7 linked regions of the Homo sapiens genome follow. The protein of the gene in region 1 purifies or fractionates together with the protein of each later gene. This does not show direct contact. Each region holds a gene or a part of one and is shown in the gene's direction. Other genes may lie near its edges. The genes, in order: DNAAF8, PBX3, ACOT9, CCDC85C, MEIS1, DUSP3 and PRPSAP1.

Region 1 (4,122 bases):
CTGTGGCATGGCTGCTGTTCCCATGCACTGGAGCTAGAAGCAGCTTGAGGGCTGGCCCACTAGGACCTTAGGCCCATTATCCACCATTCTGTGTACCTGTCTCAGTAGAGGGGTGGAGGGTCCCAGCAGAGCACATCCTGGGGGAGGGTTAACAAGAACAAAGAACAAGCAGGGCCTGCCTTCCTTAAAGAGAGAAAAGGAGGCCAGGCACAGCGGCTCGCACCTGTAATCCCAGCACTTTGGGAGGCCGAGGCGGGAGCCCCGGAGTTCAAGACCATCCTGGTCAACACAGTGAGACCCTCATCTCTAAAAAAAAAAGAAATCATCCTGGCTAACACGGTGAAACCCCATCTCTACTAAAAATACAAAAAAAAAAAAAATAATTAGCTGGGTGTGGTGGCGGGCGCCTGTAGTCCCAGCTACTCAGGAGGCTGAGGCAGGAGAATGGCGTGAACCTGGGAGGCGGAGCTTGCAGTGAGCCGATATCGCACCACTACACTCCAGCCTGGGTGACAGAGCGAGACTCCATCTCAAAAAAAAAAAAAAAGAAAGAAAGAAAGAAACAAAGAAAGAAAGAATGTATAAATTTAAAAAGAGAGAGAAAAAAGGAATTCCACTCCCGAGGATGTTCATAAATACATATAGCCATATCTAAAATATAGAACCTGGTTCTGTCAAAGCCTGATCTCAAAATATGAAAGCCCTCATTCTCATAAACTAGTGAGCACCTGTTAAAAAGTTGTATTTAGTGCATTAATGAGGGAACCAGCAGGATGACAGTGCCGGTTTAATGAGATCATAAGAAACTGGGATTTTGGCCAGGTGTGATGGCTCACGCTTGTAATCCCAGCACTTTGGGAAGCCAAGGCAGGAGGAAAATCTGAGGTCAGGAGTTCGAGAGCAGCCTGGCCAACATGGTGAAACCGTGACTCTATTAACAATACAAAAATTAGCCAAGTGTGGTGGTGCGCGCCTGTAGTCCCACTATTTGGGAGGCTGAGGCAGGAGAATCGCTTGAACCCAGGAGATGGGGATCACGCCCCTGCACTCCAGTTTGGGTGACAGAGCGAGACTCCATCTCAAAAAAAAAGAAATTGGGATTTTGTAAAACACTGGGGAAAAAGAGAGGAATGCAGAGATACGCTTGTCACATTCATGTCCTAGAGGAGTTATCTTGTCTACTGGACAGAAAAGTAACCATCACACCGTCTCGGTTTTACACATTTTGGATAATTTTTCTTAACAGGTTAGAGAAAACTGGCACCAGGTATACACAGAAGTCATCTTTACTACTGTTTAAATCAACCGTTCTTTCTGCTCACCTAAAAACTTATTTTTCTCCACTTAGAGGGCTGCAAAGAGTTGAAAGGTCATATGATAAACATGAATTCTTGATTAATTTCCTCCCTCCTCCTCAGACTCACTCTGCCCCTAAGCACTCACTGCCAAGCCTTCCAGTTTTAGCTCCTGCCTGGAACAGCTTGATTCTTAAAAGAACAAAATTTTTTAACCTCCAAACATTGTGAACCTGTATGAACCTAAATAGTGTTTCTGAAAACAACACAGGGTTTGGCTGGGCTCGGTGGCTTATGCCTGTAATCACAACATTTTGGGAGACCCAGGCAGATGGATTGCTTGAGGTCAGGCATTCAAGACCAGCCTCGCCAACATGGTGAAACCCCATCTCTACTAAAAACACAAAAATTAGGCTGGGCGTGGTGGCTCACACCTGTAGTCTCAGCACTTTGGGAGGTGAAGGCGGAGGTGGAGGCAGGTGGATCACCTGAGGTCAGGTGTTTGTTCGAGACCAGCCTGGCCAACATGGTGAAACCCCATCTCTACTAAAAATACAAAAAAAAAAAAAAAAAAAATGAAGGGTGTGGTGGCGCATGCCTGTAATTCCAGCTACTTGGGAGGCTGAGGCAGGAGAATCACTTGAACCTGGGAGGTGGAGGTTGCAGTGAGCTGAGCTCGCACCACTACACTCCAGCCTGAGCGACAGAGTGAGACTCGGTCTCAAAAACAAAACAAAATGAAACAACAATACAGGGTTTCCTTCGGGTCAGACAACGTCTTTGTGCCAAAAACAAAAGTGAAGTACTGATCCCCAAGAAAGCATAGGAAGGAGGTGGCAAAGTGCAGGCCCACCTTAACGGAGGCGTTCAATCTGTAATGGAAAGGCGGGGTCAGCCTATTTGCAAACTCTGTCATGCACTGAATTCCTGATTTCTACCCCCAACATCCTGTGACCATCTCCATGGGTCACAGCAGCTGTGAAGCAGGTACTTGTGCCTCTGGGACCCCTCAGCATCCTCATAATCACTGGTTTTAATGATTTCAGCAACTTGAAGCGTGGGATTTGGATGACATCCTTCAGAGTCTGGCGGGACAAGAAGACAACCAGGGAAATCGTGCACCTGGAACTGTGTGGTGGGCAGCTGACCACCGCCAAGTTCAAGGTCTGACCTTGAACACTGGAGCCCACGTGAATCCCCACAAGCAGCACCTTCCTGGGCCCCTCAGACACAGAGGGCTGCAGGCTGGTCACAGACAGTCCTGCAGCCCACACAAGTCTTCCCTGCTGGCCCCGCCCTAAACACTCATGCTGCCAGTCCCCAAAAGACTTCATTCATTCAACATATATGTGACCGCCTGCTACGTGCCAGGCGTGGGCCAGGTCCTAGGGACAAAGGAGAGGCCTCCGCACCCCACCCCATGACCCATACCTCCTCTTCCCCACCTCCCTGGGCCAGCCTGCCTTCCTTCTCCCTCCTCCTCCTTCCTGGGGGAAGGAAGCCCCACCTTCTGTGCGCAGTCAGCTCCTAAGCACGCTCCCGCTTCCCCTGGCCTCCCCATTTAAAAAGGGAGGCAAAGGATGTCACCACTGTCACTACACTCATGGCTTTGCTCTGGGAAGTCCTGCAAATAAAATGAAAGTTCTCCAACCCCTCCCTATCCACTCGGGCCACAAAGGCGAGGGGAGGCAGGTCTGAGGCAGAGGAGCCAGGGCAGGTGCGGCGCTTCCGCCTCTGGTCCCAAAGCAAAGACTCCCCTGTGACTGACAGCCCGTGTTATGTTAAATACATTTTGTTGGTTTGTAATTCAAATCCCATAAAGCAGGAGGTAGAGAGCCAACCATTCTGGAGGACATGTGTGTGCATGTGTATGTGTGTGTGTAACTGGCACTCCCTTTGTGGAGGGGAGTAGGGCAGAATGTATTCTTTTTTTTTTTTTTTTTTTTTTTTGAGACAGAGTTTCACTCTTGTTGCCCAAACTGGAGTGCAATGGCACGATCTCGGTTCACTGCAACCTCCACCTCCCGGGTTCAAGCGATTCTCCTGCCTCAGCCTCCTGAGTTGCTGGGATTACAGGCACGTGCCACCACGCCTGGCTAATTTTTTTTGTATTTTTAGTAGAAACGGGATTTCACCATGTTAGCCAGGCTGGTCTCGAACTCCTGACCTCAGGATCCGCCTGCCTCAGCCTCCCAAAGTGCTGGGATTACAGGCGTGAGCCACCGCGCTTGGCCGAATGTATTCTCTGTTTTAAAGGCACATAACCCTTTAATCAAGCTATTGCAATTAGAAAATCTGTCTTACACTCTGACTCTAGTAGGTAAAGATGTGTGTTCAGAGCTGTTTGCTGCAGTGTTGTTTAAAAATCTGAAAAGCTGGAAACAACCCATATTCAGGAGGAGTCCAGCTAGATCGTTTTAGCACAGAATACACTGCGGCTCGATGAGGGGATCTCCGTAGGTTAACGTGGAAGCATGTAATATACAAAGTGAAAAAAGTGAAGTTGAAAAAAAACCTATAGAGGATGACCCTATTTTTTTTTTAAGTCAACACACAGAACTGTTCATTATGATCACCTGTGACAAGTGGGACCGGGGTGTGAGGAAGTGGGATAAACTTAAAAATACGTCACTCCTACTTCACCAAGCCCTTGTGCCACAGGCCCTGCTCATAAAGATTCTGCCCCCCTCAGCCCTGCTGAGCTAGAGGTGGAGTCCTCAGAGGGCTGAGTAGGGAGAGGGCTGGGCGGGGGCAGTGGAGGAGCCTGAGGTCCATTCACATGTGGAGACCCCAGGGGTCCTGAGGCTCCAGCTGCTGTAAGTCACAA
Region 2 (4,122 bases), on another chromosome or scaffold:
GCCTCTGAATAGACAACAGATAAAATTTTAAATTATGGTGAGTTAGTTTTATTATCCAGTTGAAATTATTCTGAAGTATAATTTTAAATGAAAGTGACAGCTTTAAAGTGTTTTGGGGAAGAAATTAAAGTTTTGCATTTGTGTTAAGGCAACCAAGAGCTCTGTCATGCCATGGATGTAATTCAGGGCATCTAGGAATGAAATCTGTTCTTAAAAGAATTGACGGTAGCTTTAGGTTAGCATATAAAATCAGAGTTGGTGATCAGTTGAGTACTTGGCAGCTTATAGATGTTATGTCATGTAAGTTACACTAGACACAAAGTGTGTACCACTGTGGATAAACAACAACAGGCACAGACTCAAAAGAGAATCCAAATACAAACAAGCAAGGTGCCAACTTCCTTTTCCCCTCTTCCCCAAGAAGCCTTGTAACTAGTGTAGGGAACCTGCTTTGAAGCAGATTTACAGAGGTTAATTGGGCTGGGATGTTTTAGATTATGTTACACATTAATGAAAATGCTGATTTTGAGCTGTCATGACTCCAATGCTTTTTATACCATGATAATTATTTTAAAACTTTGTCTTCTGTGTTGTTGAAAACATTTTGGCAGAAAGCCTGTGTGACCTGATTAAACCTATGAATTGTCAGCTATGATCTATAGTACTCAGAAGAGGTTGCTGACTGGGCATCACTTAGGAAGTTCTTGATTTAAAAGCAAAATTAGATTGAGACTACTGTGCCCAGCACTGTATTGCCATGTCAATGGCACATTTTTAATACTGTATTTAGTATCCTCGTTTTATAGTTTGCTGGCAATTGCTTAACAATATTCATTTAATAATATATATATATTTAAGTATAGCCAGTTACCTCATAATGTGTGTATTCCTCTTCTGAAATCACACGATGGAAAAGCTCATCTAATGTTGTTTATTTTTCAATTTTTGATTACAGCTTGTGAATTAACTATTTTATGGGAATTTTAATTCTGTTTCTCCAACTGTACAGAGAGAGACAGAATAACCACCTTTGGATGAGTTGTTTTATATCCCTGTAATTATTTTCTTTCTTTCTTAAAACATTCAATTTTTTACCCTCTTCCCATTTTATGCTTAAATTATCTAAATCTGGGAAGCTTGAATGATTAAAATATTCCAGGAAGCCAGGGTTACCTTTTTCTAAGGATCTAGTCTGTGGTAAATTGAGGCGGTGGGGGGGTATTTAAAATTCTAGGGTGCATGTAAACACTATCTTAAAAATAATTTTCATACTTATTCAAACTTACCGATCAAATGTGAACAATGAAGTTCTCAGCATGAATTGTAGTACACTGATGTTGTTTGATCATTTTCTCGAATAAACAAAATACTCACACTATTTGTCCTCTGTTTCTCGCTTCTTCTCTCTCTGTCTCTCTCTCTCTTTCCTTGAAGGTCTCAGCATCAGAGGAGCCCAGGAGGAGGACCCTCCCGATCCCCAGCTAATGAGACTGGACAATATGCTTTTGGCAGAAGGGGTTTCAGGTCCTGAGAAAGGTGGGGGATCGGCGGCAGCAGCTGCAGCCGCGGCAGCCTCTGGAGGTTCTTCAGATAACTCTATTGAACACTCAGATTACAGAGCCAAATTGACCCAGATCAGACAAATCTATCACACAGAACTGGAGAAATATGAACAGGTCAGCAGCCGCCACTCTCATAGTCCTACACAAACCCTCTGTTGCTCTTCTATTAGACCATGCTAACCAATTCTGAGGGCTGTGAGGGGTAGGTGTTAACACAAATTACAAAATAAATAAGGTCAGTGCAAAAATCCAAGTGAATTGTTGGATTCATGAAAGGAAGACCCTTTGAGATTTTGGAGGAGGAGCGCTACCTATTTTATCCCATCTACTTGTTTTAGTTTTATTCATTCCGCACATTCACGTGCCCTTATTACCACACCTGCAGTCATTCTTCCCTCTCACCTCACCACTTGGTGCTCTTCAAAGCTCTGTATAATTAACATTTATGCACTAGCCTTGTTCATAAGCTTTAATCACTTTTGAAGGGAAGCATTGCACAGTGAGCTTTTCCCTCCTATGCTGTGAGCTCCAGAATCCTCCTGGGAATTAATTCTTATGGATTGTGCCAGACTATAGGGAACTTCACCAAGTAAGCAGGTTCCGGCCTGTTTCTCTGAGTATGAGACCTCCCAAGATAATTATGGGTACCCCAGGACAGGGAATGCTAGGCAAGGCATTATGTGCTAAATTCCTTATTAGAAAGAGAATATGGGTTAAAAATCTGGTTCTCAGCAATTATATTAACCATACTGAATCTCAGATAACTTTAAGTTGCATCTTTATGTAACACCAAGAAAAAATTAATACTGCTAGTTTAACTATAAAATATTACTGATTATAAAATGCTTTCACATTTCAGAGATGTTAAAATGTGGAGAAAAACAAGAGAGTCTTAGATTTAATGTAATAAAGTAAAATATTGGTGGGTCTTTTTACATATATTTTAGTTGTTAGTTTAATGCTGAAAAGCTGCCAAGTTTGAGGAATTCTCATTTGATAAGATTTGTCATTTGGAAGGTAATTTTAAAAACGTATTATGAAACATTTTATAATACATGTACACAAAAATAATGAGAATAGTATTAGATTGAACCCTATGAAATTGCTAAGTTTTGAGGCCAAAAACAGTTGAATATGGTAATTTCATAGAGTTCAACCCCAAATAAGGAATCAGAATCAGCTAGATACTTTTTACCCAGATAAACAGTTATCAACATTTTGCCACTCTTATTTTGTGTACCCAGCCCCAATTTGGTAAGAGTATTTTAAAGCAAGTCTTAGACATCCTATAATTTCACCCATGAGTATTTCACTATGTAGGCAAGTACTTTTTAAAGTCCACACACTTTAGTGTGAAATGGGAGTCCTGGTGAGTTTTGTGTGTGTTTGTGTGTATTTTAAAGACTCTTTTAAAGAGGAGTTTTAAGTTCACAGACCAATTTGAGAGGAAAGAAGAGAGATATCACATATACCTCCTGTCCCCACACATGCATAGTCTCTCCCATTATCAGCATCCCCCACCAGAGGGGTTCATTTGTTAAAATTGATTAACCTACATTGACACATCATTATCACCCAAAATCCATAGTTTACATTAGGGTTCACTCTTGGTATTGTGCACTCTATGGATTTGGATAAATTTATGATGGCATGTACCCATCATTATAGGGTCATGCAGAGTATTTTCACTGCCCTAAAGATCCTCTGTGCTATTCATCCCTCTCTTCTTTTATTCTTTCCTTCCCACTGATCCCTGGCAACCCCTGATCAGTTTTAATACTGATTTTTTCCCCTCTACATTCCCTGTATAGTTTCAATTATATATATCGTTGTTTTTTCACATTGCCTTTTCTAATATTCTGGATACAATGGTATTAAGCAAATGCTGAATCCTATCCCAGAGGTGAGTGTGTTTTGAGGAAGAGTAGAAAAATTTGTATAGCTTTAAGTTAAAAAGTAGTGTAAATTAATATTATAAGGTGTTTTCTATTTTTGGAATAGGATTTTCTGAGATCTAAAATTGTATGTCTAGTCTCATTTGTAAGAATAACTTCTTGTGGAAAATGTACAAATAAGAATTTTGGAAAAATTATCGTGTGTATGTATGTAAAAATCCCACTTTCTGATTTGACATATGAATAATTGAGAGTAAACAAAATAAGTCATGGTTGAAAAGGTTGCCCCTGAGCATAAACAGTAGAAAATGACTCTTATTTGTAGTATAATCCTAATTGTATAACTTTATGCTAAAATAACTATAACTACTTACTAGATAAACACTACCAGTCACCTTGCATGGAAAGAGATATAATATTAGAGGCCAAATGGCCTGAGTTTTTTGGCTGAGGAATTAAGGTGATTCCTTACTACCTCTTGCCATGTGTCTTTACACCTGCCTCCTTACTTTCTCCATACACTCTGGTGGAAGTTGTGTGAAGCTGGTGTCAGTCAATGACAAGGTCCTGAGTCTCACTGTTTTAGAAATATCCTACAAAATTTTCCATGAGATTTTATGTAACTTTAGCCCCAGCTTATACCAGCATCAAATCACCAGGGTTTT
Region 3 (4,122 bases), on another chromosome or scaffold:
TGTGTGAGCAAAAATGTATTCCAACCCTTCCCACGCCCGCTCGAGGTCCACAGTTTCCATCAGATTATCAGTAAATAGGATACCAAATGTAGTGAAAAGTTACCATTACATGCCAGGCGCGGTGGCTCACGCCTATAATCCCAGCACTTTGGGATACTGAGGCGGGCAGATCACTTGAGGTCAGGAGTTCAAAACCAGCCTGGTCAACATGGTGAAGCCCTGTCTGTACTAAAAACACAAAAACTAGCTGGGCATGGTGGTGCACAGCTGTAATCCCAGCTGCTCGGGAGGCTGAGGCTGGAGAATCGCTTGAACTCGGGAGGTGGAGGTTGCAGTGAGCCAAGATGTTGCCACTGCACTCCAGCCTGGGTGACAGTGAGACTGTCTCAAAAAAAAAAAAAGTTACCATTACCCGAATACTCTTGAATGCTATGTTGACAGTATGATATAGATTTATTATTACCAATATGCTATTGGTATAAGCAACATTTTTTTAAAAAGTGTTCCAATTATGCCTTTGTTGTGCCACAGGAATGTATTTCCAAATTTTTTAAGGCAGCATGCAAAGCAATGGGGCTCTAGGACTACAATTTTCCAAATAAATTGGCCCAAGTGTTTCTCTGTATTCATTAACTCCCTTCTTTTCTCTCCTCATTTGATTCTATGTTTGGCAGTGGTCCGTGATAGTGCCTGGCTTAGGCTATCTTTCCTTTTTTTTTGGAGACAGAGTCTTGCTCTTTTACCCAGGCTGGAGTGCAGTGGTGCGATCATGGCTCACTGCAGCCTCGACCTCCCCGGGGCTCAAGTGATCCTCCCACCTCAGCCTCCTGAGTAGCTGTGACCACAAGTGTGCACCACTACGCCTGACTAATATTTTAAAATTTTTTTGTAGAAACGGGATCTCCCTATGTTGCCCACACTGGTCTCAAGTGATCCTCCCGCGTTGGCCTCTCAAAGTGCTGGGATTACAGGCGTGAGCCATTGTGCCCAGCCTGGTTCTTTTTGATCTTTAGGGGAGACTTTGGAGAAGCATGACTTTCTGGAATAATGATAGCTAGAGATTTTTGAGGACTTGTCAGTATATTAGACATGCTCTTCTAGACGTGCCCTTCAGGGTTTAATATGTGTTAATTCCTTTATCCTTTTGACAATCCTATGGGATAGGTAGTATTATTATCCCCATTTTACAGATGAGGAAACTGAGGATCAGGGAGGTTAGGTAACTTGTCTAAGGTAACTCAGCTAACAAGCAGCATGATTGGGCTCTTTTTTTTTTGAGACAGAGTCTCGCTGTGCAGTGGCACGATCTCGGCTCACCGCAGCTTCCGCCTCCTGGGTTGAAGCAATACTCCTGCCTCAGACTCCCGAGTAGCTGGGACTGCAGGTGCCCGCCAGCATGCCCAGCTAATTTTCATATTTTTAGTAGAGACGGGGTTTCACCATATTGGCCAGGCTGGTCTCAAACTCCTAACCTCAAGTGATACGCCTGCCTCGGCCTCCCAAAGTGTTGGCATTACAGGCATGAGCCACTGCGCCCAGCCTTTGGGTTAACCCCTATACTGTATTGCCTCTCACACAAACAGGATGGAATGATTTTCATCCCTCTTCAGAAAATGCTGCTTCTTAGTGTAACAAAACAATTTCTGTGTATATGTGTATTTATTCAGGTATGTGAGACTGGTTATATAGCTCCTGTTAGTGATGCGTATTCAGGGTATTTAGCCATTCAGAATCAGATCCCATTTCTTATGTTGGATACATTTAACGTGTCTATTATAGTTCCTATTAATGTGTTGGGGGTCATGATTTTTTTGCTCTTTCAGCTAATGGTAGCAATAGAAAGGATTAGCTTTTTCCAGTGTGTTCTTTAAAACCAGATATATTCAGTTGTAGAATGCTAGTTTCTTTTTTGAGATGGAGTCTTGCTCTGTTGCTCAGGCTGGAATGCAATGGGGCCATTTCAGCTCACTGCAACCTCTGCCTCCTGGGTTCAAGTGATTCTGCCTCAGCCTCCAGAGTAGCTGGGACTACAGGTGTGCGCCACCATGCCTGGTTAATTTTTATGTTTTTAATAGAGATAGGGTTTCACCATGTTGGCCAGGCTGGTCTCGGACTCCTGACCTCAGGTGATCTACCCACCTCAGCCTCCCAAAGTGTTAGGATTACAGGCATGAGCCACCATGCCTGGCTGCTTGTTTCTGAGATGGAAGAATGAAGGAATACTTACTCTGTTTCCTTCAGTAAGGCATATGAACCTATAGAAGATACATAAAACAAAATAATGAAAAAAATGGAAAATTCAAATCACGTTCTGAGAAAATGCAGATTAGATGGTCAAAAACAAAAAGACGGCCAGGTGCGGTGGCTCATGCCTGTAATCCCAGCACTTTGGGAGGCCAAGGTGGGCAGATCACAGGGTCAGGAGTTTGAGACCATCCTGGCTAACATGATGAAACCCCGTCTCTACTAAAAATACAAAAAATTAGCCGGGCGCGGTGGCGGCGCCTGTAGTCCCAGCTACTCGGGAGGTTGAGGCAGGAGAATGGCGTGAACCCGGGAGGCAGAGCTTGCAGTGAGCCGAGATCGCACCACTGCACTCCAGCCTGGGCGACAGAGCGAGACTCTGTCTAAAAAAAAAAAAAAAGACAAATATTAATCTGTATACGAAAGTACAGGAATTGAATATTTATCGTGAAAAAGTGAAGCTAAAATATTTAAGAGAGAGGCTTGTTAGCTGTGTGATTGAAGAATAAACAGATCCAAAACCCCAAACCCTCCAGCAAGAATTTTGGTCTTAGTGGACCAGCAGGGATTGTATTGCAACCAAATAAGATGACTGGTGACTAAGAAGTTCAATTAGCCAATGAGTATGTGCTCATATTTCTGTGTTCTGTGCAATTAGATGATTTGACTTGGTGAAAGGATAAGGATTTGTTCTAACAGCACAGTGTCAAAACTGCATGTAGATTTTACAGAATACTGTAAATACTGAGAGGCTTTCTCTGAATGCTGTCATTCAGAAGAGAAACCTATAGTAGCTTGGTCTGTAAAGAAAACTAAAAATATCTCTTTTTTTTGTTGTTAGTCATTGCTTATTCCCACATTAGGTGGTGAGAATTTACTAGTAAATTGAACTGGAATGAGTGACAGTATCTGGGGTTCTGGGTTTTTTTTGTTTGTTTGTTTTATTTTTGTTTTTGTTTTGAGACAGAGTCTTGCTCTGTTGCCCAGGCTGGAGTATAGTGGTGTGTTCTCGGCTCACTGCAACCTCCATCTCCTGGGTTCAAGCGATTCTCCTGCCTCAGCCTCACAAGTAGCTGGGATTACAGGTGCCTGCCACCACACCCGGCTAATTTTTGGATTTTTAGTACAGACAGTGTTTCACCATGTTGGCCAGGCTGGTCTCGAACTCCTGACCTCAAGTGATCCACCTGCCTTGGCTTCTCAAAGTGCTGGGATTACAGGCATGAGCCACCACGCCTGGCCTGCGGGGTTCTTAACCTATTCAGTGCCTTGCCTTCTTCAACTGTGCTCTCACAGATCAGTTTATTAATCTGTGATATTGCCTGTGTGCTACCCCTGACATAATATTGTGTGATTAGGAGTCAATGCTTAAGCAATAATGAACCAAAATCAACTTATTTTGGGAGAGTAGGTTAGGCACATTTAGGTAGACAGCTTTTATTTTTTATTTTTTTGAAGCAGGGTCTCACTCTGTTGCCTAGGCTGGAGTGCAGTGGTACAATCTTGGCTCACTGCAGCCTCGACCTCCTGGGTTCAAGTGATCCTCCCATCTGAGCCTCTTGAGTAGCTGGGACCACAGGTGCATGCCACCACGCCCGGCTAATTTTTGTATTTTTTGTAGAGATGGGGTTTTGCCATGTTGCCCAGGCTGGTCTTGAACTCCTGGGCTCAACCTGTCTACCTGCCTCAGCCTCCCAAAGTGCTGGGATTACAGGCCTGTGCCACCGTGGCCAGTAGATAGCTTTTATTTTATTGTGTTGGGACTCTAGAAAATTTCTGCGTAAGTTAAATAAATACTTTCTTTGCATCTGGAAAGGGCTAATTCAATTTTCAAAGTTTACTTTATAATTGGGTTTATCTTATTTATTGAGGAAATAT
Region 4 (4,122 bases), on another chromosome or scaffold:
AGAAGCTGAGCAGGGCAGGGCAGGGCCGGCTGAAGGGGAGGGCAGCTGTTCCAATCCCAGGTGTACCCTTCCTGGCTGTGTGGCCCAGTAGTCAGACTGTGTGTATGTGCACGCACGCATTCAGAGTGTGTGCTGGCTTAGAATGCATTCTCCATTGGAGAAGATTTTGTAACTCTCTTACTGTTGCAGAGTCCTGGCCAAGAAAATCAGGTGGTTTGGAATTTTCGCCCTTAAGTGGAGCTAGGGGTACATCTCTCAGGAGAGGTGACCCAGAGAGGCATGGGTGGCTCTGATGGGGTGGGGGGAGGGGTGTCACTCATGGTTGGGGGAGGGTGAGTGCTGGGCCTAGGGGTGGGGGCTGTAGCCTCTTCCTCTTTTTGGTACCTGGTGGGTGGGGAGGGGGCTTTCCTTGATCTGACCTCCACCTGCGGGCCGTGAGTGCCTCTAGTTAACCTAGGCAGGGTCAGCCAGGGTTAATGCCGTGGTCAGGGCATGGCAGTCCCATTTGATGGTTCAGGGCTGTGCCCAAGGCCCCCGTGCTGAGACCCCTTTGTGATGCTCGCCAGGGTTATCTAAAACCCATCACACTTTGGGGGCCCTGCAGGAAGGTTGGTTCCCACTTCTCTGTCTCTCCTTTATGTCCCTCCCTGACCTTGGACCACACCCAGGTCCTCCCTGAGGCCCAGGAAGCAGCTCCCAGCCTCCAGTGCCCGGCTGCCCTGGCTGACCGGCGTCTGGTGGGCGTGGGCTATTTAATGAGGGGAGTCAGTGCCGGATCCCTGCTTTCCTGTCTTGGCTCCGTGGGAGCTGGTAATAGAGCATCCACTTGCCTCCTCACCCCCGCAGGACACGGCTGTTTGCTGGCCCTTGAGCCAAGCTCTTGAGACCTCCCAGCCCCAGTGGGGGGCCTGGCCAGGGCTCTGATGGGGCTGGGAGAACACAAGAGCTGGACCTCAGTGAGGCTGGGGCTTGTGAGAAGTGCGGGGCCAGGTCCAGCTTTTGAGGGAGGCAAGCAGGGTGTGTGTGGGATCTTTCACAGCCAGGCCGAGGGGCTGGTGAGTGGAACTGGGACCCCAGACATGGCTGCAGCCTGTCCTGCCTTCCTTGCCCCTGCCCCAGCCCAGCCCCAGCCTGGGCCTCCCCTGCCCCTGCAGTTTGTTTGGGTAACTCAACAGCCTGCTGATTTATGGGACATTCCGCAGGGTTTTATCTGCCCAGCCACTTTCTCTCAGTTCCTTTGAAGTAGAAAAGGGTGTTTCGGCCAGAAACACCCAAAACCCTTTAGTGATGCAGAAAGAAAAGAAAGGCCGGGCCTTCTGCTGGGCCGGGCCAGGGGAGGGGCACTGTGGGACTGACCAGAGAAGTTTATGGGACCTGTGGATTCATTCTGGCTCCTGGTCCCAGCCCCAGCCCCAAATTCTGGGGGTCGGTGGTGTTTGCTTTGCTCTTAAGCAAAGGGTCTAAGGCCAAGCCTTCCTCCCTCCCTCCTGTGTGCAGGAGTTAGTTACAACCCCACAGCTTGCACGAGTTCTCAGGGATTCAGAGGCAGCACCCAGGACCTGCTTTAGGAGCTCCCTGCCCATCCGATGGGGGAGGCAGCCTGGGCGGAGCATCCCGAGAGAGCCCCGAACCCGTGGGAGGTGGGAGGCCTCGCCTGTGGATGTGGCCCCATCTGCTGCCGATGGCTGGCCCAGGCCCTGTGAGTGGTGCCGTCTGTGCAGGGACCCAAGGGCAGGAAGTTGGAGCGGAGGAGCCAGGGTGAGTCACGGGGTGGGAGAGACACTCTCTCCTCACTCGCTCTCACTGGCTCTTCTTCATTCATTCATTCATTCTGTTTATTCAGCCATCCAACAAATGTTTACAAAGCCCACGTTGGAGAGTGGATCGCTGACATTTGAGCTGGGGAGAGTGAAGATCGATTGATCCCGGCTCGGGGGATGGATAAGCGGTGTGGAGGGGAGGGTGGAGGGGTCCTCCGGGGCCGTGCCTTTGAGCAGCCCCTGCTGCCGTGAGGAGCCATGCCCAGGGCCCTTGTCCTCCTCAGCCTGGCCCTCCGTCTAACCCCTCTCCTTCTCTCCCCTGCAGCAGGCAGGCTCCGGAGAGTTCCGCACGCTGCGGAAAGGCTTCTCGCCCTACCACTCGGAGTCCCAGCTTGCGTCCCTGCCGCCCTCCTACCAGGACTCCCTGCAGAACGTGAGTGTGCACCCCAAAAAAGCCCACATGTTCTGGATGAGGGGCTGAGGCTCAGGCGGGCCAGTGACCTGCCCGGAGGGGCACAAGGATCTGGGTGCCTGAGTTCAGCCCCAGCCCTAGGCCCTGTGTCCGTGTCCCATCCAGTGTGGCAGTTAGAGGCGGAGCCCCAGGTGGGTTGACACTGCTGGAGGTGCGGGGCAGTCTCCAGAGGCCACGTGCGCAGGGCTGCCCGTGCCTAGCCCCTGTCCCTCTGAGCAGCTCATTAGCCTGTGCCACTCCTTGGCCACGGTGGGGAGAGGGTACCCGGCCAGCCCTGGAGCTTGGGGTTCAGGTTTGTGGATTCTGCACTGAAATGACCAGCCTGATGCCTCCAGGGGTATCCTCTGCCCCTACCTGGCTGACCTGGCCTGGAGGGAATGGGGTGGGCGGCTTGGAGCCAGCTCCCGGGAAGTGGAACCTAGCTCAGGACTGTGCCCTGTAGATAGATATGATGGCAGTGGGGAGCCACAGGAGTCCAGGCCCACTTGCCCTCCTAGGACTGGGGGCCTTGCCTTGTGGGACTTCACGCCTCCAGGAGCCTTGGTGGGTGTGTAGCGGATGCTTGGGAAGCATCGGCTGTTCTCGTTGCGGCACCTGCAGAGCCGTGTATGGAGGTGCTTCTTGGGCAGCACGTGCGCTTGTAGCAGCTGTGCCCCTTCCTGCTCTCTTCCCTGCACCCCTTGCCCACAAGGCTGACCCCAGGCCCCCGGTGCAGAGCTTGCTGGGCCTCAGTGCTGGCTGCTGGCTCTGCGATTTCTCTTTTGCTGCCCTTCCACCTTCTCCAGGAATGCAGCTGTAGAGCCTGTGCAGGCAGCAAAGCCCGCCAATGGCCGATATTCCAAGCATTTATCCGGAGTCCCGTGGCTGAACGAGGCTCTAACTGTTTCATGGTGGAGGGCTCTGAAAAGCCAAGGGATGCCCTCACGGGGCTGGCTCCTTAGTCTTCATGCCCCGTGCCTCTCATTCATTCAGATCGTGGGAGGGAGTAATAGCAGCTAGCAGTTACTCAGTGCTATGTCCTGAAGTCTTCCGCGTGGCCTGCAGGTTGGGAAGTGCTGTGCAAGCACAGCTCTCACATGTACCAGGCCCGCCAGATGCTGTCTCCCTGCAGGCCTCTGGAGAGCACACCTCAGGCATGGGCCGAGCCTCAAGGCCTGAGAGTGCGGATAAAATGCTGTCAGAGTTCAGGAATGTTCAGGAAGGCTTCCTGGAGGAGGCAGCCTTGGGAAAGGGTTTGTTCCTCTTGCCTCCTTTTTTCCTCTAGACTGCTCTGTGCATGAAGGGGTGTCCCCTACTTTGGAGAGGAGGAAGTGAGGCTCACAGGGGTGGGGTGGATGGCCAGGGCCCCATGGTGAGTGCGTCCTGGTGCCTGTGTGTGCCTAGAGGTCAGGGGCCAGCGTGGGGGCTGTGCAGGGGTCGCTCCTCCATGAGGCCAGGAGGCCGGGTGATAAACTGAGGTTCAGGGGCCATGATCAGGGCTGGTCGGCGGGCAGGCCCCCAGGAGTGGGATGAACTGAGGTGCAGGGGCCGTGATCGGGGCTGGTCGGCGGGCAGGCCCCCAGGAGTGGGATGAACTGAGGTGCAGGGGCCGTGATTGGGGCTGGTCGGCGGGCAGGCCCCCAGGAATGGGATGAACTGAGGTGCAGGGGCCGTGATCGGGGCTGGTCGGCGGGCAGGCCCCCAGGAGTGGGGGTTGAGGGGTCAAGGTATCTCGTGGGAGGGGCCGATGAAGCCTGGAGAAGTGGCTGCTGTGGAGGGGCCAGGGCCAGAGGCCCTTGCTGGGGCCTGGAGAGCCCATGTCTGGCACTTGGACCCCCGGGGAGAGTGAGGGGGTTATCCAGAGAGGGCCGTCTCCGGGCTCAGACACTGCCTGGCACACAGGCCCTTCCA
Region 5 (4,122 bases), on another chromosome or scaffold:
AAAAAAGAAATACTAACTTTTTAAATTTCATTATGTCACAGAGCCAAAATATTTTCTAGAATAAAGAGTGTAAATGTTATAATAAAAATCAATAGAAAAATAGGATCCAATATAGAGGAATATGTTAGCAGGTGATTTTTCAGTGTGAAAAATGCTAGGTTTACCTAGCATGAATTTTAGAAACTGCCTGAATTATTAGTGTAATACAATTCTAATTTACTATTAATTTAGCATTACCTTATTTGATTTACACAGTAATTGTTTTTTAATTAAGAAACTATGTCAGGGGTTTTTCCTTTACTAAACTTGATGCTTTCTCTCTATTACAAGAAAAATTATATTTTATTTGAAGCATTCCTATGTCAAACTGCTTATATGATGGATTACCTACATTTCCCCATCCTAGTTTAACTAGTCTTAAGATAGATCACTTGTGGAAATAGTTGATATCTTAAATGAATCTTCTCACAAGTCAATGTCAATGACTGTGGGATTTGAATGCCCAGGCAGCCATAGCGCCACAGCTAATGACTGCCACCATGTTTAACTCCCCGGTAGGAGTTACACTTAACCTGTCTCAGCTATACATATTGGAATAATTACCATAGCAACAAAGCCACAAGGGGATTGGATATTTCCCTCCATTCCCTTTGACTTTTGGCAATGTTCTTTGGAAGAAGTTCTTTAGACCTGACTGCTCTTGAGCCTAGGCCTTGTTCTTTCTCTGTCTTGGAAAACAAAACACAACAAAAAAACAGTACCAAAGAAACTATTAATCATTTAAATTTGCTCTTTTGGTTTTGTTTATATCCAAAGGCATTCTATTTGAATAAAGCATGTCAAGGTAGCATCAGTCAAAATTTGATTCGCTATGTTTGCAGGTGATGGCTTGGACAACAGTGTAGCTTCCCCCAGCACAGGTGACGATGATGACCCTGATAAGGACAAAAAGCGTCACAAAAAGCGTGGCATCTTTCCCAAAGTAGCCACAAATATCATGAGGGCGTGGCTGTTCCAGCATCTAACAGTAAGTGGATTCTAAATGACATATATAAACTAAATATGGACAATGAACCAGTTTTTATACAAAAAAATGAGAAAAAAGTGATCCCTCTGGACTTGAAATATTTAATAAATAACTGTGTTCCCACAGTTTTTGCAAAAGTATTAGCACTTATTTCTTAGATAGATACCCCAAATGAGAAATTTTATTTAAAATTCACGATTGCGATTTTGTTAACTTTCATAAGTTAAAAGATTTAGGTGTTCATGTGCACTTGTGATTTTAAGTATGTGTTTTAATGATGTTGCTTTTCTAAGTGTGACCCTTAAGTGCTCAGAACCATCTCCTACTAAGAAGAAAGTTAGACAAACCCTAGAGAGAGACTTAATATCTTCTGATGCTTTAGTGGATCTTTACAACAAATGGTCCACAAAAATTTAAATCATGTTGCAATGGCAAGATGATCACATAATTTGCTTTTAAGTGGTTTGAATGCACTGGCTTCCATTACAAAACATTCATGTAAGTCAGAGCTCCACAGTGAAAGTTGTCCCTGTATTTAGAACTGTAAAGGAAAACAGCAATATAGAGTCAGCTCTTCCTGTGTAGTCCCTTGTGACTTTTCAAGCAGAGTAACAGTTTATATTGTCTGTGCCAGTATTGCTGTTTTCACTGCAGGAATTCTCCTGGAGATGTGAGAAACTGGAGATTTGGGGCTTTATGCCACTGGGGGATTTGTTTTGTTTGGTTATTGTTCTGAATGAATTTCATGTTCAAAATATTTATAATAATAATATTTTGGTGGATATTTTTGTAAGTGCATACCAATTTAAAGAAGAAGATACAATGAAGATTTGTGGATAAAATAATATTTTAAAAATCAACAAAATTGTTGACCAGAGGAATTTCAATATTAGAGACAAAGGATGAATTTAGACAGGTTGTAGCAAAGTTACATAGATGGATAAATGTTAAAAACTCTTGAGGGTTGTTTTTTAATATCAGGAGAAAATATTTTGTGTTACTATTTTTGTCTTAGCTTGCTTTTCCTAAAGTCAATTTTTCCTTAAATATTAAAGTTAATCTTGCATTGTCATAAACACTTGCAGAGCCTGTTTACCTTCATACCTGGGCCCACATTCAAAGCCATGTTCCTCAGTGAGTTTTACGGGTACAGAGATACAAACTCAGGGGATGTCTGCAGGTCATGTTAGTTCTGCTCCTCTGGATAGAGGCTGTGCCTCTAATAATACTCAAGGGTATAAATTAATCCAGATTTTCCAGCATCAGTGAATAAGATAAAAGCTGAGAGCAGCAGGAATAGCTAAAAAAAAAAAAAAGTTTCCTCCCTTCTCTTCTTCCCATAATAATTCCAAACAGTATCTAGACTACACTACAGTTTTTGAGTAAACTTCAGGGCTTGGCTATGCTGGAAATTAGTTGGAGATTTAGATTATTTGAGCTGTTTTGATTTTAACATCATATTAGGTTTACCTAGAATCTGATTCAGGCACCACTACTTATCTGACACCTGTTGCATGTGTGTAGATATTTCAATATCTGACTCCTGCAAATTCCCCACTGAGGATTATCAATCACTAATGAACTAGGGGAAAGAGGACTCAGGTCTTGAGGGCATATCATGAAAAACGAATGATATGACATTTAGATAAGAAGTGGCAATTGGTCAAAGGTGTGGTACAATGATGCTGATGCAATGATGCTAATATTTTATCTCCAGAAATAACCAGCTAACTCGCTGTGTGGAATGAGTTGGTGTGGTGGATAAAATCAGGTTGGCCCTGAAGTCACAATCAAATAATTTCTATTTCCTATAGACTAACAGAAACAATGAATAGATTTCTTCAGCCCCCATCTCAATCTGCAAAGGAGTTTTGGCTTTACTTGAAGCTGAGGTGCCCCTGAATAAAATATAATCAAATATTGGTTCAGACAGAATCAGGAGAGAGAGAAGCAAGCTATTTTATGCAGCCACTAGTTTTCCTGTTTTTCTAGGTTGTACCCTTGTGAAGACCCTTGCATAGAGCTACATTATCTTCTTGAAACAAACAAACAAACAAAAAACCCAAATAAACTTTCTAACAGCCCGCATGATTTTACATGCATTGCATTGCTTATATGGACTATGTGTTTGTTACTGGGGCAATTGTAATCGAAATTATTCATGAACTGCCTGATTTCTTGAGACCTAAATAATAGTCTTCAGTTTTGAGGTCTTTGCTGGCCTGTGCCACTGCCCTGGAAGGGGAAGCCCATTCATCCATGTTTCCCCAGCTTTCTGTGAATGTTTATAGGTGTTACCTTGTGGTTTCCATTGGATATTTCTACCTCCATTACCCACTCCAATGCCATCTGCTCATACAGAAATATTGATTAATGATAATGGTCTGTAGATAGCTAATTGTTCTTATAACATCATCTGAAGAGCAAAGTTAAGAGATATGTTTAAATTTTTCATCTTTTCCTTCCCCCAATGAAAAAGATTCCTTCCCACTTCTCTAATTGCAAGAGCAAATAGACCTCCAGCTATAAGGAACACCCGTTACCCTTGTTTTGTAATCCTTCTTGAAGGAATGCATGGACTGCTTAGGTAATATTTATAGTAAGGAGCTAATTTTAATAAATTCTATTTTAAAAACCTATAGAATCTAAAGAGAGTTTTGTTGTTGTTTGTCTAAATGTAAGTAACCACTGACATCTCAGTACTAATTCTTTAGTGACTTTATTTCAAGTTCTGGGAGGTCTTCAGGGATGCACAATTCATTAGGAAGACTGTACAAATTTTAAATGGTCACGTCATTGCTATGTGATTAATGCAACTTATCTAGGAAATCCTTTCTGAATTCTTGCTAGATGTAAAAAAGCCATTGAAATTCTGGCTAATTAAAACAATAGCAATACCAATTTATTAGTAAACTGTAAACTAGTCTTTTTTTAAATGTCAAAAGACATATTCGAAAACCTCTCACACCTTTTAAAAGCAAATTGCTATTTCTTTTTAAAATAAATGGATCAATCCTTTCACTGGGTTTATTCAGTGAAAAAATCTGCCCTTGAAAAGGCTTTAAAGCATTTCTGTGTTAGAAGAGTAGAATAGG
Region 6 (3,975 bases), on another chromosome or scaffold:
TCCGAAGCTGGGGTGGGGGTGTCCGTCAGTTATTAGTGGATGGAGATTCCCACAGCAAGGCTGCATTTGAATGATTTCCTTAGGATGAATGGTCCCTACACAAAGAGGCCTTGTGGGCAAACCTGGAGAACCCTCCTAAATCCATAGAGTTTTCAAAATGTGAATCTTTGGAAGCCTTGAGTTCAGAATCTGCTGCTCTGGAATATTTCCCTTCGATCTTATCTCAGTCACTTCGTTTTTGAGAAGAGTGATGCCTTGGGCATGCTTTTTTTTTTTTCTTTTTTAGAAAACAGGGAGTTGAAGTCCAACCTATTTAAAAACCCCACCATTTGGAGAATTACAAGGGTTTTGTCCTGAATTGTAGTGTTGGCAAGCCCAAGCCACTCGTGCTAACTGCTTTTTGTCTCGGTTGCTATTCCAAGAACAGAAGGAGGAAGTTGGCCAATTACAGCGTGTGTGCATGGATGTGTGTGGGGGGCGTGCCTCTCAGAAACGCGGCCAGAAGACAAGCAGGGAAGTGAAAGGTCCCAGGCACACACCCTGCCCATTGCAGGTGGCTCTTACAGCTCTCTGGTGCCAGCACGGGATCCCTGAAGTGACTCAGCCAGGCAGACATGAGACATGGCGGAGTGTCCAAATGGATCCTTTATTGGTGGTAGAGCAAAAAAACCCAAACACGATAAACCTTTCAAAAGACTTTCTAAGGATGATATTGGAATGCACCAGCCCTCACATGTGTATGCACATTTGCCAGAATATAAGAGTTTTGTTTTAAATACAGTCTTGTTAGGATTTTACGTTATTGTTATTATGGAAAGTGATTGTGATGCTATTTATCTTCAGGGTCACTCTGGGCAAAGAGAAGGTCCTCAGCCATGCCCCCAGCACCTTGCACATAGGTGTCTGATAAAAGTTTAAGAAAGTAAACACTTTTTGAGCACCAAATATATATAGGGCATTGTTCTGGTGGGTGTGTCACGCTCCCAGAAGACTGAATTCATGGTAGGATCACTCGCAAGGCCTTGTGAAGGAGTCTTACCTAAAACGAAAGAAATATCAGGGACTTTTGTTGACTATTTACAACTCAGTTTTACATTTAAATTCAGGCAGTGTTAATATGCCAAGGTAGGGAATGTGCCTTTTTCAGAGTTGGCCAGGAGCTCCTGGCTGGGACACGGAGAGGCAGGTGTGGCGTAAGGCCTCACTCCCGGCTGGGAAGGTCTCTGATCACACAGAAGCAGCCCTGCCCAGCCTGGTCATTTGCTGTCCGCTTTTCTCTGTGACCACAGCAGCCCTGAACAACCAGTATGTGTCTTCTTCTCCAGATAGTGAAAAAGGTGTCCAGATAAACCCACCTAAGTGAAATGGCCATCCTCTAAACTGGGTACCTCACTGCACAGCTTCTAGGTAGCCTTCCAACTTAATCTAACTTGAGCCTCACAGTAACCCTGTAAAGTTAGTAGAGCTTGTTCTTGTATTGTGACCTTTTTTAAAAAAAAGGAACTGAGGTTCAGAATGATTAAGGGCCTGGCCCCCAGGGTTGTCCAGCTCCATAAGGTGGAGCTGGGCAAGATTTTGGGTTTGCTGCTCCCTGAAGCTGGATTCTTTCATACGATACTCTTTCTCAAGAAGGGGGCTCCCTGGGATCTCCAGGTGTACTGCACTTACCCTCAATCCAGCCCCGGAGAAGCAAGTGAAAAGGGTGGGTCCCTCATAGGCTAGAATGTGCAGCTCTTTCTCCAGGTGGGATGTAGCACCCCGAAGTAGAGCTTTCTGCTCTGCTCCTGGAAAAGGCTAGGGAGCTGGGGCTGGGGCTCCCCTCCCATGACCAGGCAGTGGTCACCCCATGGGACAGGCACAGCTACTTACGCGAACACAGCAGGTTGGTGTGGCTGGCTAACTAGGACCTCTCGAAAGTCTCTGTGGGGGCATGAGGGAGAAAAGGCCATTGGGAGAATTACTGCCTTTACTTTGGGACTACTTTTATGCTGATAACTTGGGATTTCTTGATAGTCCTTCACCCCTGAAACCCCGTATTTACTTAACAAGATTTAGCTCTTAGTTCTTCAAGTAAAATTAAAGTCTCTTGTGTAAGAGCCAACACATGCCCAGCTGCGGATGGGAGCTGTTCCTGGACAGCCTTCTACTGCCTGGGAAGTGATGGAACAGGAACTCAGGGTGCCCTTACCCCCTCCCCAGACCTGTTCCCTTTCTTTGACTGACAGAGCACCATCCAGGCAAAATTAGAGCGCCAAATGGTTTTCTTCTCAATCTTAAAGCAGTATACCTTTCCACAGGCTCGTCTGTGTCCCTGCCACTCTGAGTTATCCAGAAACCACCACCTACAAATGAGGGGACTCATCTAGAAGACCTCTAAGGTCCCCTTTTGGCTCTGAGGGGTCTCTAATAATCCCCACTTGGAATTCAGCACCGCAAGGAAATTATGGGTATGTGAGCCATAATATGATGGGCAGCAGGTGGCGCTGCCTTCCACCCATGGTGATGGATGGTTTGGAAAGGGAATGTTGGTGCCTTTTGTGCCACAAGTTAAGATGCTACTGTTTTAAAGGAAAAAAAAAAAAAAAAGTACTGATCTTCAATATGAAGACATGAGCTTTTCTCGCAGGAAATTTTCTTTTTCACAGAACTGGTGTCAGGAATCACTGAAGGGCTAACCGTGATAGTCCTTGCAAGTAAGTCAAGGTTTTATCCTGATTGGAAATAGAAGACATTTCCGGTTGAGAGAACAGATTCGTTGGAAGCTTAACTTTTGTTGCCTCTTAACGCCACCAAATTTTAGGGTAATTTGATTATGAAAGAGTGAATTTTTCTGGACAGAAAAGGGAGAGCTACCAAATTGTTTTTTTCTTTTTAAAAGGAAGTTTAATGTCCGTTGTATCACAAATCAGTGTTAAAACACCAGAACTTTAGCCAAAATAAATGTCTTACATTACAAAGGTATTGTTTTTTTGTCCTTCTTATCACAGTTGGTATTCTTTTACGTTTTTATGCTTAGCTTTTTTTGTTTGGGCTTAGCTTTTATATTTGCGATTTCTAACTTTTTAAAAATAATCATCTAAAACATAGCCGTTCTGAGCTAGTTATAGGTTCCATGATGGCACTGTTTATGCAGTAGATATTGATGAACACCTTTCCAGTACCAGAAATGTTCTGGTAGGAATATTCTTAGGTAGAATGGCCATAATGGTCCTGAATGAAGGAGGTAAGGTTTGTGCTTCTAAGAAAGCAGGGGACTAGGGTGTTCATCTCAAGGTAGCCTCACGTGATGACTGGGTGACATTTTGAGATTTGAGTGATCCTGCAAATGAACAGTCCCTAAACATATCCCCTTCCCCCAGATGCCTTAAATTCCACTATTGGTGCTATGTTCCTTTGAATAAAAAACCTTAGAGAAAGTAGTTGCCTTTTCCTCCCAGACAGAAGTCTGGGCAGAGAAAGCCTCTCGAGGTTCCCATTCCCTCTATCACATGAAGCAATTGGACTCGCTTCCTGTTTGTCAAGACTCTGACAATGTAATCTTTATGGTTCTACACAAAATCTTAAGGCAGAGCACTAAAATATAAAACAGGTAAAAGTTTTTAAGTATAATTTTTAAAAAATTTTTCATTAAAAATAATACTATATGTACATAGTAATACACTTAAACAATGCAAAAGGCTTATACGGAAAAGTGAGTCACTTGCTCCTTCAATCTGTCTCCCCATAAGCATCATATCCTTAAAGGAAAATGTCAAGCATATATAAGCACACATATGTGCATACGTGTGTATATACAGAGATATCTCTGCTTTGTTGTTTGTTTTGCTTAGCTTATATTATGGTTATTGTTTTTATTGTTCTACCCCCTTCATCTTAACAGCTACATAGCATTCCATTGTGTATGGATGTGTAAATAAAGACAAGGTGATTTGGACATCCCTCAATGCAGGGTACTGCCTAAAAGCAGAAGTTTGC
Region 7 (4,122 bases), on another chromosome or scaffold:
TTTTTTTTTCCACCATTTGAGGGTGAGTTGCAGACGTAATGTCCCTTCATTCCTAAATACCTTCGTGTATATTTGTAAAGACAAAAGACTCTTATATAACCAGAGTATCATTATCAGACTCAGGAAGCTAACATTGCTGTAACACTGTAATCTACAGACCTTACTCAGGTTTCACCAGTGGTCCCAGCAGTGTCCTTTAGAGCAAAAGAATAAACTTGTTTTCTTGTTCAAGACCTAACCCAGGGTCACACATTGCATTTAGTTGTCATTTCTTTTTAGTCTCATTTAATCTGGAGTGGCTGCTTTATTCTTTGTTTCTTATGACCTTGATACTTTTGAACAGTGCGATCAAGTGATTTTGTAGACTCTCCCTTAATTGGGGCTTGTTTGTGTCCTCAGGATTAGATTCAGGTTATGCATTTTTGGCAGAAAATCACAGGAAACACATGATGTGTCCCATTACTGGTGATGTGCATTCTGATAAGTTGGTTAAGGTTTCTCTGGCAGGTTTCTCCACTGTAAAGTTACTCTTTTTTTTTTCCTCTTTGTAATTAATACTACCTCATGTTAAGACTATGTTTTAACTGTAAATATTCTGCTTCTCATCAAAATGAACATCTACTGATGATTCTTGCCTGAATCAATTATTGACTGTGATTGTTGTCAGTGTTCATTTTTCTAACTCTATCATTCCTTCTACATTTATTAGTTGACCTTCTAATGCAAGAAAGCTTTCTCTTCTTCCCTATTCATTTCTTCATTTATATCAGTATGGATTCATAGGCCTATTTCATTCAGTGGGTTATAATTCATTGTCGTCACAGGAATACCTTAAATATTGCAGGTTCAGTTCTGCACCATTGCAGTAGGTGAATATTATAATAAAGTGAGTCTCATGAATTTTTTGATGTCCCAGCACATGTAAAAGTTATGTTTATACTGTAGTCTGTTAAATGCTCAATATCATTGTGTCTAAAAACCAATGTACGTACCTTAATTTAAAAATACTTTACTGCTAAAAAATACTAGCAGTTGGCCAGGCGCAATGGCTCAGGCCTGTAATCCCAGCACTTTGGGAGGCTGAGGCGGGCAGATCACGAGGTCAGGAGATCGAGACCGTCCTGACTAACACTGTGAAATCGCGTCTCTACTAAAAAAATGCAAAAAATTAGCCGGGCGTAGTGGCGGGCGCCTGTAGTCCCAGCTACCGGGTGGCTGAGGCAGGAGAATGGCATGGAGGCAGGAGAATGGAGGTGGAGCTTACAGTGAGCTGAAATCGCGCCACTGCACTCCAGCCTGGGTGACAGAGCGAGACTCTGTCTCAAAAAAAAAAAAAAAAAATTAGCAGTCATCTGAGCCTCCATCTTGTTGGTGGAGGGTCTTGCCTCGATGTTGATGGCTGCTGACTGATCAGGGTGGTGGTTGTTGAAAGTTGGGATGGGCTGTGGAAATTTCTTTTCTTTCTTTTTTTTAAGAGATGGGGTCTGTTTCCCAGGTTGGTCTTTTTTTTTTTTTTTTTTTTTTTTTTGAGACTGAGTCTCCTCGCTCTGTCGCCCAGGCTGGAGTGCAGTGGCGCGATCTCAGCTCACTGCAAGCTCCGCCTCCCGGGTTCACGCCATTCTCCTGCCTCAGCCTCCCGAATAGCTGGGACTACAGGCACCCGCTACCACGCCCGGGTAATTTTTTGTATTTTTAGTAGAGACGGCATTTCACCGAGTTAGCCAGGATGGTCTCCATCTCCTGACCTCATGATCCGCCCGCCTCGGCTTCCCAAAGTGCTGGGATTACAGGCGTAAACCACTGTGCCCGGACCCAGGTTGGTCTTGAATTCCTGGCCTCAGGCAATTTTTCTTTTCTTTTTTTTTTTTTTGTTTTGAGACGAGTCTCTCTCTGTCGTCCAGGCTGGAGTGCAGTGGTTCACCCAGTTCACTGCAAGCTCCACCCCCCAGGTTCACACCATTCTCCTGCCGCAGCCTCCCAAGTAGCTGGGACTACAGGTGCCTGCCACCACACCTGGCTAATTTTTTTTTTTTTGTATTTTTAGTAGAGATGGGGTTTCACCATGTTAGCCAGGATGGTCTCGATCTCCTGACCTCATGATCCGCCCGCCTTGGCCTCCCAAAGTGCTGGGATTACAGGAGTGAGCCACTGCACCCTGCCAGCCTCAGGCAATTTTTATACCTCAGCCTCCTGAGTAGCTGGGATTACAGGCAAGAGTGATTGTGCTCAGCTGTGGCAATTTCTTAAAACAACGAAGTTTGCCTCGTTGATTGACTCTTCCTTTCACAAAAGATCTTTCTGTAGCATGTAATGCTGTTTTATAGCTTTTTTTTTTTTGAGATGGAGTTTTCGCTCTTGTTGCCCAGGCTGGAGTGCAGTGGTGCAGTCTTGGCTCACTGCAACTTCCACCTCCTGGATTTAAGTGATTCTCCTGCCTCGGCCTCCCTAAGTAGCTGGGATTATAGGTATGCATCACCACACCTGGCTAATTTTTTTTGTATTTAGTAGAGACAGGGTTTCACCATGTTGGTCAGGCTGGTCTGGAACTCCTGACCTCAGATGATCCACCCGCCTTAGCCTCCCAAAGTGCTGGGATTACAGGCGTGAGCCACTGCGCCCGGCTGACAGCATTTTTTAAAATGTCAGCCAGGTGATGTACTGATGTTCTAACAAGGTTCAAGGATGGCACATCTCACATGTAAGCGTGAACACCCAATGATCACACTTATGAACTACAAAATGATCTGTTTGATAGCATTTTACCTAGAAGAAAGAACTACTTTCTTTTTTTTTTTTTTTGAGACAGTCTCACTCTGTTGCCCAGGCTGGAGTGCAGTGGCACCATCTCGGCTCCCTGCAACTTCTGCCTCCTGGGTCCAAGCAATTCTGCCTCAGCTTCCCGAGTAGCTGGGATTACAGATGTGTGCCACCACACCCGCCTAATTTTTGTATTATTAGTAGAGACAGGGTTTTACCATGTCAGCCACGCTGGTCTCGAACTCCTGACCTCAGGTGATCTGCCCGCCTCGGCCTCCAAAAGTGCTGGGATTACAGGCGTGAGCCACTGCGCCCAGCCGAAAGAACTACTTTCAAAATTGTAGTCACTGTTCTCAAACCCTGCCACTGTGTTATCAAATAATTTTTGTAATACTTCTAAATCCTTGTTTTCATTTCAGCAGAGTTCACAGCATCTTCAGCAGTAGATTCATCTCAAAAAAAAAAACAAAAAACCTTCTTTGCTTATCTATCAAAGCAACTCCTTATCCATTACAGTTTTATCATAAGATTGAAGCAGCCCAGTCACAGCTTCAGGTTCCAGTTCTAATTCTAGTTCTTTTGCTCTTTCCACCACATCTGCAGTTACTTCTACCATGGAGGCCCTGAACTCCTCAGAGTCATCCATGAGGGTTAGAATCAACTTCTTCCAAACTCCTGTTAATGTTGATATTTTGGCCTCCTCCCATGAATCACGCGTGTTCTTCATGGCATCTAGAATGGTGCATCCTTTCCAGAGATTTTCAGTTTACTTTGGGTCCTTCAGAGGAATCACTATCTATGGCATCTATAGTCTTATAAAATGTATTTCTTTTTTTTTTTTGATACAGAGTCTTGCTCTGTCACCCAGGCTGGAGTGCAGTGGCGCAATCTCGGCTCAGTGCAACCTCTGCTTTCCAGGTTCAGGTGATTCTCGTGCCTCATTCTCTCGAGTTTCTGGGATTGCAGGTGTGCACCACCACGCCCAGCTAATTTTTGTATTTTTAATAGAGACAGGGTTTCACCATGTTGGCCAGGCTGATCTCAAACTCCTGACCTCAGGTGATCTGCGTGCTTCAGCCTCCCAAAGTGCTGGGATTATAGGTGTGAGCCACCACGCCCAGCCAAATGTATTTCTTTTTATTTTATTTTAGAGGCGGGGTCTCTGTCTGCTGTCCAGGCTGGAGTACAGTGACAGGATCTCCCTCTCTCACCCAGACCTGCAGTGCAGTGGTGCGATCACTGCTCACTGCAGCCTCTACCACCTGGGCTCAGGTGATCCTCCCACCTCAGCCTCCTGAGTAGCTTGGAAGCTGGGACCACAGGTACGTGCCACCACACCTGACTAATTTTTGTATTTTTTGTGGA

Evidence for each region.
Region 2: the proteins of DNAAF8 (region 1) and PBX3 purify together in Homo sapiens (affinity purification with mass spectrometry; 2 studies listed by BioGRID and IntAct, with this or other methods). This does not show direct contact.
Region 3: the proteins of DNAAF8 (region 1) and ACOT9 purify together in Homo sapiens (affinity purification with mass spectrometry; 2 studies listed by BioGRID and IntAct, with this or other methods). This does not show direct contact.
Region 4: the proteins of DNAAF8 (region 1) and CCDC85C purify together in Homo sapiens (affinity purification with mass spectrometry; 2 studies listed by BioGRID and IntAct, with this or other methods). This does not show direct contact.
Region 5: the proteins of DNAAF8 (region 1) and MEIS1 purify together in Homo sapiens (affinity purification with mass spectrometry; 2 studies listed by BioGRID and IntAct, with this or other methods). This does not show direct contact.
Region 6: the proteins of DNAAF8 (region 1) and DUSP3 purify together in Homo sapiens (affinity purification with mass spectrometry; 2 studies listed by BioGRID and IntAct, with this or other methods). This does not show direct contact.
Region 7: the proteins of DNAAF8 (region 1) and PRPSAP1 purify together in Homo sapiens (affinity purification with mass spectrometry; 2 studies listed by BioGRID and IntAct, with this or other methods). This does not show direct contact.

The regions. Positions count from the first base shown.
Region 1 is NC_000016.10:4,740,702-4,744,823, forward strand, and holds part of DNAAF8 (dynein axonemal assembly factor 8), read left to right. Parts: intron 1-2,341; coding exon 2,342-2,459; intron 2,460-3,543; exon of another isoform or gene 3,544-4,122. UniProt on the Homo sapiens protein: In cyliated cells, dynein axonemal particle-specific protein required for deployment of ODA to the axoneme. Interacts with outer dynein arm (ODA) subunits.
Region 2 is NC_000009.12:125,914,252-125,918,373, forward strand, and holds part of PBX3 (pre-B-cell leukemia transcription factor 3), read left to right. Parts: intron 1-1,434; coding exon 1,435-1,676; intron 1,677-4,122. UniProt on the Homo sapiens protein: Transcriptional activator that binds the sequence 5'-ATCAATCAA-3'.
Region 3 is NC_000023.11:23,736,395-23,740,516, reverse strand, and holds part of ACOT9 (acyl-coenzyme A thioesterase 9, mitochondrial isoform a precursor), read left to right. Parts: intron 1-4,122. UniProt on the Homo sapiens protein: Mitochondrial acyl-CoA thioesterase. Catalyzes the hydrolysis of acyl-CoAs into free fatty acids and coenzyme A (CoA), regulating their respective intracellular levels. Regulates both mitochondrial lipid and amino acid metabolism.
Region 4 is NC_000014.9:99,520,204-99,524,325, reverse strand, and holds part of CCDC85C (coiled-coil domain-containing protein 85C), read left to right. Parts: intron 1-2,085; coding exon 2,086-2,193; intron 2,194-4,122. UniProt on the Homo sapiens protein: May play a role in cell-cell adhesion and epithelium development through its interaction with proteins of the beta-catenin family. May play an important role in cortical development, especially in the maintenance of radial glia.
Region 5 is NC_000002.12:66,511,268-66,515,389, forward strand, and holds part of MEIS1 (homeobox protein Meis1), read left to right. Parts: intron 1-881; coding exon 882-1,027; intron 1,028-4,122. UniProt on the Homo sapiens protein: Acts as a transcriptional regulator of PAX6. Acts as a transcriptional activator of PF4 in complex with PBX1 or PBX2. Required for hematopoiesis, megakaryocyte lineage development and vascular patterning.
Region 6 is NC_000017.11:43,765,107-43,769,081, reverse strand, and holds the end of DUSP3 (dual specificity protein phosphatase 3), read left to right. Parts: 3' UTR 1-2,957; downstream 2,958-3,975. UniProt on the Homo sapiens protein: Shows activity both for tyrosine-protein phosphate and serine-protein phosphate, but displays a strong preference toward phosphotyrosines. Specifically dephosphorylates and inactivates ERK1 and ERK2.
Region 7 is NC_000017.11:76,322,818-76,326,939, reverse strand, and holds part of PRPSAP1 (phosphoribosyl pyrophosphate synthase-associated protein 1), read left to right. Parts: intron 1-2,640; exon of another isoform or gene 2,641-2,744; intron 2,745-4,122. UniProt on the Homo sapiens protein: Seems to play a negative regulatory role in 5-phosphoribose 1-diphosphate synthesis.